3 separate regions of the Homo sapiens genome follow, and all the other regions are linked to region 3. The links come from fine-mapping of genetic effects on gene expression. A gene starts in region 3. Each other region holds a variant in brackets. All regions are shown on one strand. Distances are from middle to middle.

What was found. PIP is the estimated chance that this variant, and not a neighbour inherited with it, causes the effect. A credible set is the group of variants that fine-mapping cannot tell apart.
Region 1: its variant is the best candidate, but not a certain one, in a credible set for the expression of CASC8 in iPS cells (HipSci, PIP 0.71).
Region 2: its variant is the best candidate, but not a certain one, in a credible set for the expression of CASC8 in transverse colon (GTEx, PIP 0.57).

Annotation. Positions count from the first base shown.
Region 1 is chr8:127,307,517-127,311,761 of GRCh38, forward strand. All of the region lies in intron 1 of CASC21 (cancer susceptibility 21), which reads left to right. All of the region lies in intron 5 of CASC8 (cancer susceptibility 8), which reads right to left. Among named protein-coding and RNA genes, the nearest start is that of CASC21, 65 kb to the left of the region's middle. RefSeq lists an enhancer at 164-213. The variant A/T (reference allele first, on the strand shown) is at 1,737.
Region 2 is chr8:127,441,147-127,445,391 of GRCh38, forward strand. The region is part of intron 4 of CASC8 (cancer susceptibility 8); the gene reads right to left. Among named protein-coding and RNA genes, the nearest start is that of POU5F1B, 27 kb to the left of the region's middle. The variant C/T (reference allele first, on the strand shown) is at 2,054.
Region 3 is chr8:127,479,790-127,484,034 of GRCh38, forward strand. It overlaps CASC8 (cancer susceptibility 8), which reads right to left and starts at 2,350. Exons shown (of 6, transcript NR_117100.1): 1 at 1,845-2,350; 2 at 939-1,282; 3 at 1-17.

The DNA of each region.
Region 1 (4,245 bases), 170 kb before region 3:
CAAAAATGGCCCAGGGATCTTGGAAGCTCTATGTGTGAGTATATTCCTCAGTTTTCAGATTTAGGGGATTGGGGAGGGATGTGGAAAGCATAGACAGAAGGCACTGCAGAAGAGGAGAGTAAATGACTTTAGGTCATTGAACTGGTTTTTGATAGAAATCAAGTTAAGAAAAATAGAAGTCAATAGTACTAAGTTTGAACTTTATCTTTCTAAAAACTGCTTCTGTGGGCAGAGTTCATATGCTGGAGGAATGAATCATAATGACACCCTTTGGTATGACCCTGGGGAGAATAAATGTGACTTAGTTGAGGTTTCTGAGGATGACATTCAGAAAGAAAACAAGAGAGGGAAATACCCTTTCTCTCTGTCACACTCTCAGGTTAGAAACTCACTTTAGGGGCCACAGCCTATGACAAATACACTCATGCAAATTCTGTGCTTGCTTCCATGCTCCATTTCTTTGCCAACTATGTAGCTAAGCAAAATGGAACAAGAAATAGTGTCTTGGGAGAAATAAAATTGCTGGATTAGATACAGGCCACCTTTATATAAGAAAAAACGTTAAATTATGCTACTGGTGAAATAAGTCCATTTGGGTTATTGTGGAATTTTATGTGAGACTGAGATAGCTGATTAAGATGGTGATGCTTGAGTATTATCATTTTAGTAATAAATATTTCCAGAATCAAAGTGAATAATATGTAGGGAAGAGGGAGGCAAACTGCGGCCATGGGCCAGCAGCCTGGTTTTTTGTTTTGTTTTGTTTTATGGCTCTTGAGCTAAGAATAATTTTTAAATTTTGAAGTGGTTACATTTTATTTTATTTTATTTTTTTAGGCTAGTCTAGTGAATACATTTTAAATGCTTATACAAGCACTGAGTGATAGCCTCAATTTTGCCTGTTGGCTCACAAAGTCTACAATATTAATTAACTGTATCTTCTAAAAAACAGTTTGTCAGCCCCTGGGACAATAAATAGTAGATATAGCCTGGGCATGGTGGCTCACACCTGTAATCCCAGCACTTTGGGAGGCCGAGGCAGGTAGATCACCTGAGGTCAGGAGTTTGAGATTAGCCTGGCTAACATGATGAAACCCTGTTTCTACTAAAAATACAAAAAATTAGCTGGGCGTGGTGGCACGTGCCCGTAGCACCTGTAATCCCAGCAACTTGGGAGGCTGAGGCAGGGGAATCACTTGAACCTGGGAGGCAGACGTTGCAGTGAACTGAGATTGCACCGTTGCACTCCAGCTTGGGCAACAAGAGTGAAATTCTGTCTCAAAAAATAATAATAGAAAAAAAGAATGTATAGTCTCCTGGGTCAAAGAGATCTGAATTTGGATTTTGCCTAGATACATCATTAATTCATTTCAAAATACTTATCAAGTAGGTATTCTTTCTTCACTTGGCTTCCAAGATGCCACCCTCTCCTAAATTTCCTCCTTCCTCACTCACCAATTCTTATCAATCTTCTTTGCCAGTTGCTCCCAGTCTTCCTAATCTCTCAGCACCAAGACCACAGCTCAGGTCTTGGCCCCACTCCTCTTTTCCGCCTGTACTCACCTGGTGCTTGTGCCGAGAGTTCATTCTTCCCATTGTATTTACTAACACCAATGTGCTGATGACTTCCAAATTTATACTTTTAGCCCGGATCTCTCCCTTAAACTCTACAGTCGTAATGCAACTGTCTTCTTTAATATCTCCATTTGATGATGAACATATATCTCAAACTTAAC[A/T]TGCACAAAATGGAGCTTCTGATCTTCATCCCCAAACCTGATTTTTCTAGAGTCTTCCTTGTATTGGTAAATGATAACTTCATTCTCCCTGTTATGTCAGTTTCTTCATTGGAAATGGGCATAGAACCTGTCTCAGGGCTGATATAAAGAATAAATGAGATAATATAGTGTTACCGCTACTCATAAGACCTACGACAGTCAGCATTCAATAAAAGTGAGGAGAGGACAGCATAACCTTTCCATTCTTTCATCTAATGGCTCTGTTCTTTCCTTCTCTTTCAGACCCTTACTATCTTATCCTAGAACCATTACAAAAATTTAGTAACTGGTAGCCTTGATTTAGTAGTAAAGTGGTAATTATAGAAAATATTATTCTCCCCATTTAAAGATGAGGAAAATGAAACAGCCAAGATGCCCTAGTCCCACCTCCTAGCAAGCACCAAAGTTGGAATTTAAACATCAGCCAACTGAAAAGCCAGTGTTCTCCAGGCTCATCCTCTGCAACACAGCCTTCACCAGCTTACTGTCAGGTGAAGCGCACACCCTACAAGGCTAAATATGACAACAAAACAGGGTAACTGGACTATGGGAGACAAGAGTAGAGGTTCCTCAACTGAGCTAACATATCAGAATTCTCTGAAAGTTTTATGCAGATTCCTGAGCTTTGCACTAGAACTACTGAATCAGGTCGGGCCCAAGAATGTATAAATTTTTAGAGCTCCAAAGGCATTTTTGAGCAGTCAGATTTAGGCGCTCCTGCTCTAGGTTTTAAAAGGAAGATTTCCTAATATTTAGAGCCAATAAATATAATACAATCATCTACAACTCTCAAAGAGAGACGAAAAACCAGATTTTCCAATATATAAATGGGCAAAGGGCATAAAAGGAGGATTTACAAAAGAGGAAGCAAAATGGTTAATAGAAATATTTCAAGTTATGAGACCTACTTATATTCAAATAATACAAACTTCTAAATGTTAATAAAATGCCATTTTTAGCTACCAAATTAGCCAAGTTTTTTTTAATGCGAATACAGTATTCCTGTGAGTATGTGATGAGATGGGCACTTTCATAAACTACTGAGAAGGCAAATATTGGAGGTACCACTTTGAAAAGCAATTTGGTAGCATGTACCAAAGTCTTGGAAATGTCAGTAGTCTTTAATTCAGAAACTCCCTTATATAAATACATGCAATAAAATAATCCAAAAGCAATGAAAAAAATATGTACTGCACCTAAAAGACATTTATAACAATCATTTACAAAAGCAAAATAAATAAAAATAAGTGAAATGTTAAAACAAGAGAAAATGTGAATTATTCAGCATCATTGATTATTAAGCAGTTATCAGATCTTTCAGAATACACTATATTATTTCATTTTACACAAATAAATAAATATATATGCCGGGGGAAAAGTTTGAATGTCCTTACACCAAACTGTTAACAACAGGGTCTGTAAGTGGAGCATAATATTGTTCTACCCATATAAATTTGTTCAGACAAATTATGCTAAATCCACTACTCAAAATATGATGTTTCTTCTTTTTAGAAGGTTCTACCCTGCTTTCTATGCTGGTAAAATATTTTTGTTTTGAGAACTAATGCAAGTGTCATCTCCCCTATAAAATCTAAGTGTTTTTTACCCAAGCAGTGATCCGTTTATCCCCTTTATTTGTTAGCATAGATTACCTTTATTTTAGCACTTACTTGCTATTCAAAAATTATCTGTTGCTGTATTTGTTCCTCCCAGCAGACTATGAGCTGCCTGAAGGCAAGATCTGGGGGGTCTTACGTGGCCAGAAGCGTTTATTAAATTAAATTCCTTGAATGATAGAAAGAAAGCTCAATGGAAACCTTCCATTTAGTGTCTGTGACTCCATCACAAAGAATGCTGTGCAAATTGCTAAGAGGATAGATAACTGTTTTTACCACCAGAAAAAAAAAGAGAGAACAGAAAATGGTAAATAGTTATCTCATGTTGATGAAATGGTGGATATATTAATCACCTTGATTATAGTGTTTATTTCAAAATGTATATGTGTATCAAGACATCAAGCTATGCACCTTAAATATATACAATATTTGTTTATCAATTATACCTCAATAAATAGGAAAAAAAAATGTGAAAGACTTTTGGCTTCTACTTAGGATATAGAAAGCAGGAAAGAGTAGCACTCCTAGAAGTACTAGAAAATAATGCTAAAGAATCTGCAGATTCACAGCTCTTTATTTTTATTTATTTATTTATTTATTTAAACTAATCAGAGAACTGAGGTCGCAAGACAACAAACTGGTCCTAAATAAAAAGTAAGAAAAATGCCGGGGAGGAGCCAAGATGGCCAAATAGGAACAGCTCCGGTCTACAGCTCCCAGCGTGAGCGACGCGGAAAATGGGTGATTTCTGCATTTCCATCGGAGGTACCGGGTTCATCTCACTAGGGAGTGCCAGACAGTGGGCACAGGTCAGTGGGTGTGCGCACCGTGCGCAAGCCAAAGCAAGGTGAGGC
Region 2 (4,245 bases), 39 kb before region 3:
ATTTTTTTTTCCCCCCAACGCCTCTGAGTCAGGTAATATTAGTTTCCTCATTTTACAGATGACAAAAATAAGTCATAGTACCTTGCCCAAGGTCTGACAGCTAGCAAACGGGAGAGCTGGATTCTGAACACAGGCAGGCTCCAGAACTTAAAACTACTATGCAATATTGCATAGTAGTTGCAGAACTTAAATAATAGTACTATTGCATAGTGTTATGCAATAATTCATAGTATAATGCAGAACTGAAAAATGCTGTCACAATATCACTATGTTGTGCTAGTCATTGCACATTCTCATCTCTTCTTCTGGCTGTAAGCTTCTGAATAGGTGGGAATGAGTTGCATTGTATCTCCTGTCTTTGGTACAGTGTCCTATTCATGATAGAAAACATGCTTAAAAGAACTAGAAAGACAGGGAGGAATGGGATGACACCTGCATTTTGGCAGATGTTTTAAAAATTCTGGAAACCGAAGGAGCAGTTGGCCAGTCACAGGCTGTGTGTGCACATGTGCTTGACCACTCTCTCTATTCCCCTCTAGTCAGAACTTAAACATCTTTTCATGGAGCTCTGCTGTGGAAAGCCTAGAAATACATTCTACTCTCTCTAAAAGCAACAACTAAAAATACACAAATTAGCCAGGTATGGTTGTGGGCACCTATAATCTCAGCTACTCGGGAGGCTGAGCCAGGAGAATTACTGGAACCTGGGAGGCGGAGGTTGCAGTGAGCTGAGATCATGCCATTGCACTCCACCCTGGGCAACAACAGCGAGACTCCATCTCCAAAAATAAAACAAAAATTGAGAACATAATCCACAGGAATGAATCTCCAGTGTAAGAATGGTGACACTAAGATATCCAAGAGAGGGATCTTAGACTCAGGACAGGTTATATGCAAAAGACAGTTTACAGCCTTAAAGGTTATAGAATCCAGCCTGCTACTGAGAAAGCAAAGGCTAGAGACATCCCAAGATGACACAGTGGACGACCAAATGCTCACCACTGTTTTCTGGGGCTCTAACTCCAGGCTGTTGATTCTCAGGAAGGGTTGTTTTTCATACTGCCCTTTCAAATTACAGCACCTTTGCTGCCTCCATCTAAAACTGGCCCTTCCAACATCTCATCAACTTTTACATTCTGATGTCCCCATTTCAGAGAGATTTCTTTGAAACAGAGCCAGCCCTTCCAGTAAGCATATATAACAGAATGGTGATTTCAGAGAGTGGAGCCTGGTGGAAACAAAACCCAGACATGTAAAATTTGACACCTTAACCGACATAAGTGCCCACATTCCCTGCGTTTTCCCACTCTCTGCCTCACCCCACCTTCAACATGCCCATAATTTTATTCTGAGGAAAACCACAACCAGCACTTACCACCAGAGTCCAAATTCCCTGGCAGCAGCCTTGCTTTTAAAAGGGAGACATAAAAAAAATTGTCAAGACCTATGGGGCTTCCTAACACATTAAAAAGGCCCTCAAAAACTGTGTTACACCAAGCATAATATTATCTTTTTCTTTAAGAGATTTCTTAATTGGTTCCATGCAAAAGGTTTGTAGGTAATGGGTTTTAAATAAATAATAATGTTCCACCACCCTGACTGGCCAAGAAAGTAAATGCCTTTTTCCCTGACTTGGGTAAGCACTGGGATGGAAAAAAGGCCTGTGTGAAAATTTTGGCCTCACCGTAAAAAGGCAAGACCTCAATCTGGGGACTCAGATGTAATCAACCATGGTTTAGTTTCAGTAATTTGGTTGCAACAATTATTTGGCAAGCATAGTGCTAGGTATTGGTGGGACGGAGATGACAGACTGTATAACTGAATGCTCAGAATAATTAAGTTAAATGTATTTATTTTATTTATTTTTTATTTTTATGTTTTTGAGATGGAGTCTTGCTCTGTCACCCAGGCTGTAGTGCAGTGGCTCAATCTCAGCTCTCTGCAAGCTCCGCCTCCCTGGTTCAAGCCATTCTCCTACCTCAGCCTCCCAAGTAGCTGGGACTACAGGCGCCCGCCACCACACCCGGCTAATTTTTTGTATTTTTAGTAGAGA[C/T]GGGGTTTCGCCGTGTTAACCAGGATGGTCTCGATCTCCTGACCTCATGATCCGCCCACCTTGGCCTCCCAAAGTGCTGGGATTACAGATGTGAGCCACCGTGTCTGGCCATTAAGTTAAATTTATTAATAATTAACAAATACGTTAATTAATATTGAATAAAGGAATTTTATTTGGGCTTCAGTCTTTCTGGGCTCCTCACAGTTACAAAAATACAGCATACCCTTCTGGTTCTCAAGGAGTTTCCAATGCAGATCTCTGATCTGGAGTGCCTCTCTTCCTTTTTGCCCTGAAGGTAGTCAGTGAGGCTCATCAGAAATTTTCTGATTCTCTTCCTTCCAGATACCTCCTTATGCTTTTGAACTCAATTGTTGCCATGGGCTTGATTTGGCCAGTGAAATGTAAGTGAAAGCAATGTTTGTCTCTTCAGGTAGAAGCTGAGAGCCAGTGCTTACTGTTGTTTCATTCTCTCTCTTCCTCTTGTCACTTTCCAAATGGTAGCGGCCCTATCAGCCTGGGTCCTGGCATGAAGAAACACAAAGTAACACTCTCCCAAATTACCCATAACAGACATGGAATACGGAAGAAATAAATCTTATTATGATCTCAAGTTCTGAGAGCTGTTTGTTACACAGCGTAGCATAACCTAGACTAACTGATTTTTACCTCATCTACCCATTTACCATTTACCTAACTCTAATCATCCTTCAGCTCTCTGCTTCATGGTTACTTCACAAGAGCTTCATAAGATGCCAAAAAGTTCATTTCAATAGTTTCCAAAGCTTCCTCAATATAATGCTTATCATGATATTAAGATTGTTAGTTAATTTATTTATAGCCCATGATTGGTTATGAGCTCCTTGAGAGAAGAGTCTAAGCCTCATACACAATCTTATCTTTAGTCTATAATGTAGTGCCTGATATAAAGTGCTATGGTTTGAATGTATGTGCCCCTCCAAAATTCATTTTGAAACTTACACAACACTAGTAAAAGGTGAGGCCTTTTGAGTGTGATTAGGCCATGAGGACTCTGCCCTTATAGATGAGATTAGCAACCTTATAAAAAGACCAGAGGGAACTAGCTAGGCCCTTCTGTCCTACCTCTTCTCTTATGTGAGTACACAGAGTTCATCCTTTTTTGTCCCCTTCCACTGCAATGAGGGCACAGTAAGAAAGCTCTGTCTTGGAAGGAAAGAGTAGCTTTCACCAGACACAGAATACACAGAATATACTGGTGCTCTAATCTTGGACTTCCCAGACCGTATAACTGTGGACAATAAATGTGTACTGTTTATAAATTATCCAGTCTCTGATATTTTATTATAGCAGCACAGATAACTAAGACAGAAATTGGTACCAAGAAGTGGGGTGTTCCTATAACAAATACCTGAAAAATGTGGAAGTGGCTTGAAATTGGGTAATGTGTAGAGACTGGAAGAGTTTGCAGAATCAGACTAAAGAAATAGCCTGTATTTTCATTAACAGAGTATTAAAGTAATTCTGGTGAGGGCTCAAATGAAAACAGCTGCAGAGAGAACCTAAATTATCCTAGAGACTAAGTGGTTGTAAACACAGTATTCATGGAGATACAGACAGTGAAGGCCATCTTGATGAGGTCTTAGGTGGAAATGAAGAACAAGGCATTGGAAACCGGAGGAAACGTCATCTTTGTTATAAGTTGGCAGAGAACTTGGCAAATGGTGCCCATGTTCTAATGTTTTGTGAAAGGCAGAAGTTATAAGTGATATACTGGGATATTTGGCAGAAGAAATCTGTAAACAAAGTGTTGAGAGTGCTGCATGACTGTTTATAGGAAAAGACGAGAAGGGAGAAACAACTTAAAGACACAGCTTATAATCAAAAGGGAAGCAGAACTTAAAGCGTTGGACAATTCTCAGCCCAGCCATGTAAAGAATGGAAAGGTACTGTTTTGGAGAGAATAATCCTAAGGGTGAGGCCAAGTGACTCTTTGACAAATAAATTAGCATACCTAGAAGGAAGCCAGATGCTATTCCATTAAGACAATGGAAGAATGACACCAAAGTCATTTCAAAGATCTTGGAAGCCGCCACTCTCATAACAGGCTCAGAGTGCCAGGGCCCTGAAGGCAGAACAATTTCATAGGTGGTACCTTGAGGCTTCATCACCCAGGACTGCCTCAGGCTTCTGCTCCACTCATTCTGGCCCAACAC
Region 3 (4,245 bases):
GGGCATTCTGGTGTATACTGATAAGAAACAACAACCAAAGATAATTAAGATTGACCTCACCCTCCGAGATGTTTACAGTTTACTTTGCTTCCCTAAGCTTCAGTTTTTCCCTCTGCCAAAACAGAAGCTCGGAAGAGATGTCTCCAAGACACTTTCTACCATGACCTTTTGAATTTCATAACTCTCTAATTCCAGAATTCAAAGAGTGACTGTTTTACCTCCCACTGAATGATTCCTCTGAGAAAAAAGCTCTCTGCTAGCTAAGCTAGCCAAGACACCATACCTGAAGATAATACCTAAACTTCTGTTTGTGTCCCAGGAATCCCAAATTGATGTCACACCAAAACAATGTCATTTATACAATTCATTATATGTCACTCATTAATACATTTGCTTAGTTGATTTTCATTAAAATCCTGCAGGGAGCATTATTACACTCATTTTTCAAAAGAGATAACTGAGTCGTAAAAGGATTAAATTATTTGCCCAGGTCACACGGAAAGAAATTAACGTGGCCACGGCATAAAACCAGATTTTCTGTTTTTAAACATATTTTTTTCGCTGACCTCCACCCTGTAAGAGCTTTTATTACCAAGCGATTGAGAAGCACAGGCTCAGGGACACTGAATTTGACCAAAGAAGCCAATAGAACTATTCCAAAAACCTATGGTTCCCCCTAAAGCATTAGAAAGACTCAGAACGGGTTAAGTGCTCCCTGGCTCATTCCCAACAGACACTACATTCACCTGTGCTTGCTCTGAAATAAATCAGTGTCCCTTTCTGCTGCTGCTGTTGTCTGGAAATAATGCAAATGCAATGGGCCTTTACTGACATTGTGCTTCCCTGGAAGGATACACATAATAAATTATCCCTTAATACTGTTAAAGAGACATTTTCCTCTTACTCAGGAGCTTTTGGGGTTGGACTGGGCTACTCACCCAGCAAGGAGGAGGACATGTGTCTTGTCACTGGCCCGGTTATTCATGTGGCCTCTCATTGCTCCTTGGCTCACTGCATTGCAAGATTCAAGGATGCACTTCCAGGCCTCCACATCAAGTCATAGGACTTGCCGGTAACCTAGATTGGTTTTCTCATTTGTAATTTGAATTTATTTTATGTTATGCATTTGTATGTTTATTTATTCGGATGCTCAGAAGCTGAAGATAACTAGTGCTCCTGGTCCATGCCATTCATCAATTGGAAGAATGCCAAGCTGTTTCCGCTGAGGACAGAAGGCATTGGTCTCCCCTGCAGGAAGCCACTGCTGCTCCTTAATTGTTTGCTAGAGGAAGAATCAAGGGTAAAATTTAAAGTAAATGGCTGGCCGAGTTGCACTAATTCATCAAAGCATGTTTCAAGTCAGTAGTCAGAGCATGCATCAGCCCCCGGCGCCACCAGCTTCTACGAGAGTGGAAAAGCCAGCAGACCTCCGAGCAGATGAAATCATTAGGAGGCATTCAGCAGGGCTTGAAAAGCAAAGAGAGAGGAGGCGGGGATTTCTCTGCATGCTCCCTTTGCCACATGGGAAACACCAGCTGTCTGTGACCTAGTTATCCAAGAAAGGAAACACGGAAGAGAACCCACAAAACTGTTTGCTACATGAGAACCCCATTCTCCAAAGACATGCTGGATGTTGAGAAAACAATTAGCATCTTCTAGTTTGACTCTATTTTTTTTTTTTTTTGCTTAGAGATTTTTGGTAGCAATAAAGACAAGCCCTATTACAGTAGCCTAAGAAAATGGAATTTTTAGGGATAGCCCATGGATAGGAAGTAAAAATCTTGGTTCATGAAAGATGGGAAGTAGGAACTGGAATGTTTTTGGAAAATCTATCAGCATCTCACCTCTTTCTCTTGCTCTCTCTCTCTCATTACATGGCCCTTTATTTGTGCAACAATTCATTTTCCTACTTCTCTATGAAGGTCTCTCTTCTTGCTTTTAAGCATGAAGCCACTCATTCATTCAGTAAATATGTATTTAATGCTAACAGGTGCTGGCACTGCCCAAGATGCCAGGGCTACAGCAATCAACAAAACAGACAAAATCCCTGCCCTCGTGAAATGTACACTGTGGTGAGGCAGGTGAGGCAGGCAGAAACTGAACAAGATAAATAAGTAAAAGATACAGTGTGCAAGAGGGCAGTGAGTGCTTGGAAGAAAAGATCAAGGGAGGAGAAGTGAAATACTGGCAAAGTAGTTGAAATCTTAAATAAAATGGTCATGGGAGACCCCACTGAGAAAGTCATTTCTGAGTGAAACCTGAAGGAAGTAAGAAGTTAGCATTGCAATTGTCTGGGGCAGAGCATGCTGAGGAGAGGGAATAGCAGGTGCAAAGGGCCTGGGGTGGTTCAAGGAGCTAGCAGAGAGGCCATTGAGGAAGGAGGTTAAGCAAGTGAGGGGGATTAGTTAGAGGTGAAGTCATAGACCTGGGGGCACAGATCACAAAGCGTTTTCTAGGTCATAGTGAGGACTTTGGCTTTTACTCTGAGTGAGATCAGAAGATCCCAAAAGGCCACCACAAGATGATATTCACGTGGTCCACCTAATCCAGTAGTCAGTCCTTATTGCTAACTTGCACACAGTCAAGCTCCCTTAGTCTCCAAAAGAGGAGATCCAAGCAACGATACTTCATGAGCAGTCGGCTTCGAGAGTCATCCTGAGTTTTCAAGGCTGACACAAATATCAGTCTAACTACGCAGTCCACCTGTGTAAATATTTGGGGAATAGTGGATGGTTAAGGAAGAGACCTAGTATGAGATAAAGTGTCCAGGCCCTGCACACATTTGGGTCTCACAGAATTAACTGGCAAATGCTAGTAAGAGTATCAGGACCTTAGGAAATAGAGATTCCTTTAGAAAACTCTAATTCCCAGAAAGATTTTCACATAAGACCTTCACACAAAGACAAAATTAGAATGTGTGTTCTCTCACCATCTCCTTATCCAGAGAGTCCTTAGATGTGGCAGAAGGACCCACAAGAGTTGTCAGAGGCAGTTGTGAGGGGTTGCCAGTCATGTTAGTATTAATAGATATCATGAGAAGTTAGACACGTTTTTGAATAAATTAGAATGAATTAAATATTAACCCAAAATGTCATTATGCTCACTCCCTACCCTCCCACTATGCTTTCCTGACAGAGAAAGAAAGGGTGGCACTGTGGCTGGAATACAGAGCCCACAGGACTTCAGCATGTCCTACACATAAACCTCCTCCTTTTTGTGACCCTTGGTGGAAAAAGTATGAGAGCCACGTATCTTAGAAATAACTGCCTTTCCTCCCTAGATGCCTGCCACAAAAACAGACATGTTCTAGAACTTTCTTCTCCCTAGTTCCAAGAACACTGAACTCATGGTAATGGCCAAACAATGATCTTTTTCTAAGGACAATGTCAGAATGCTTTACTGTGCCATTTTCATAATCAGACACAAGAAAGTTACCATCTGTAGTTCAGCCATAGCACTTCACATGAAAGAGGAAATGACTAAATATATATTTACATAGCTCTCATGAATATGCATTTTGTAAATGCACAAATATGTACAATTACTTGATAGACTGTTTTGGTTCCTATCTTTCGAATATTTAATACAACTGTAAATGTTTAATTCATATTTACTGAGTTGATTGAACAGTTTCTAAATTATCCCAAGCCTTGCTGGAAACAAGATTGAATGTTTCCAGCATATTTGCACACTAGGATTTGGCCAGGAGAATCCACACTAACTGGTTAAATGATGATTTTCTTAGAAAGCATATTGAATAAGCTGCTGGTGAAATCATCTTGCTGACCACAACATAGAGGGACAGCACCAGATCTAATTCCAACCATGACCTGCAGAGCCTCTCATGACTAGGCCCCCCTGATGCCTCTTTGCACCTCTGTCTGCACTGCCCCTCATTGCTAAGCCACAATCAACCCATGTTCCACTTTCAGTCCTCTGCACCAGCTGCTCCATGTGTCCAGAATGCTCTTCACATAGACATCAAGCCTTTGCTCTAATGTCACCTTTTCAATGAGGTCTATCTTAACCTCTGCATTTGAAATTGCAATCCCATCATCCCCCAGAACTCCTGATATCCCCTACACTCCCTTATACTTTTTTGTCTATAGCAACCACCCCTCACCACTTTATAACATTTATGCTTTGTAGTCTGTCTGTGTCCACTCACTAGAATTCAAATATCACAAAAGCAGGAGTCCACTTTTTTTTTCATTGAAAAACTCCAAATCCTAGAAGGAAGCTGGC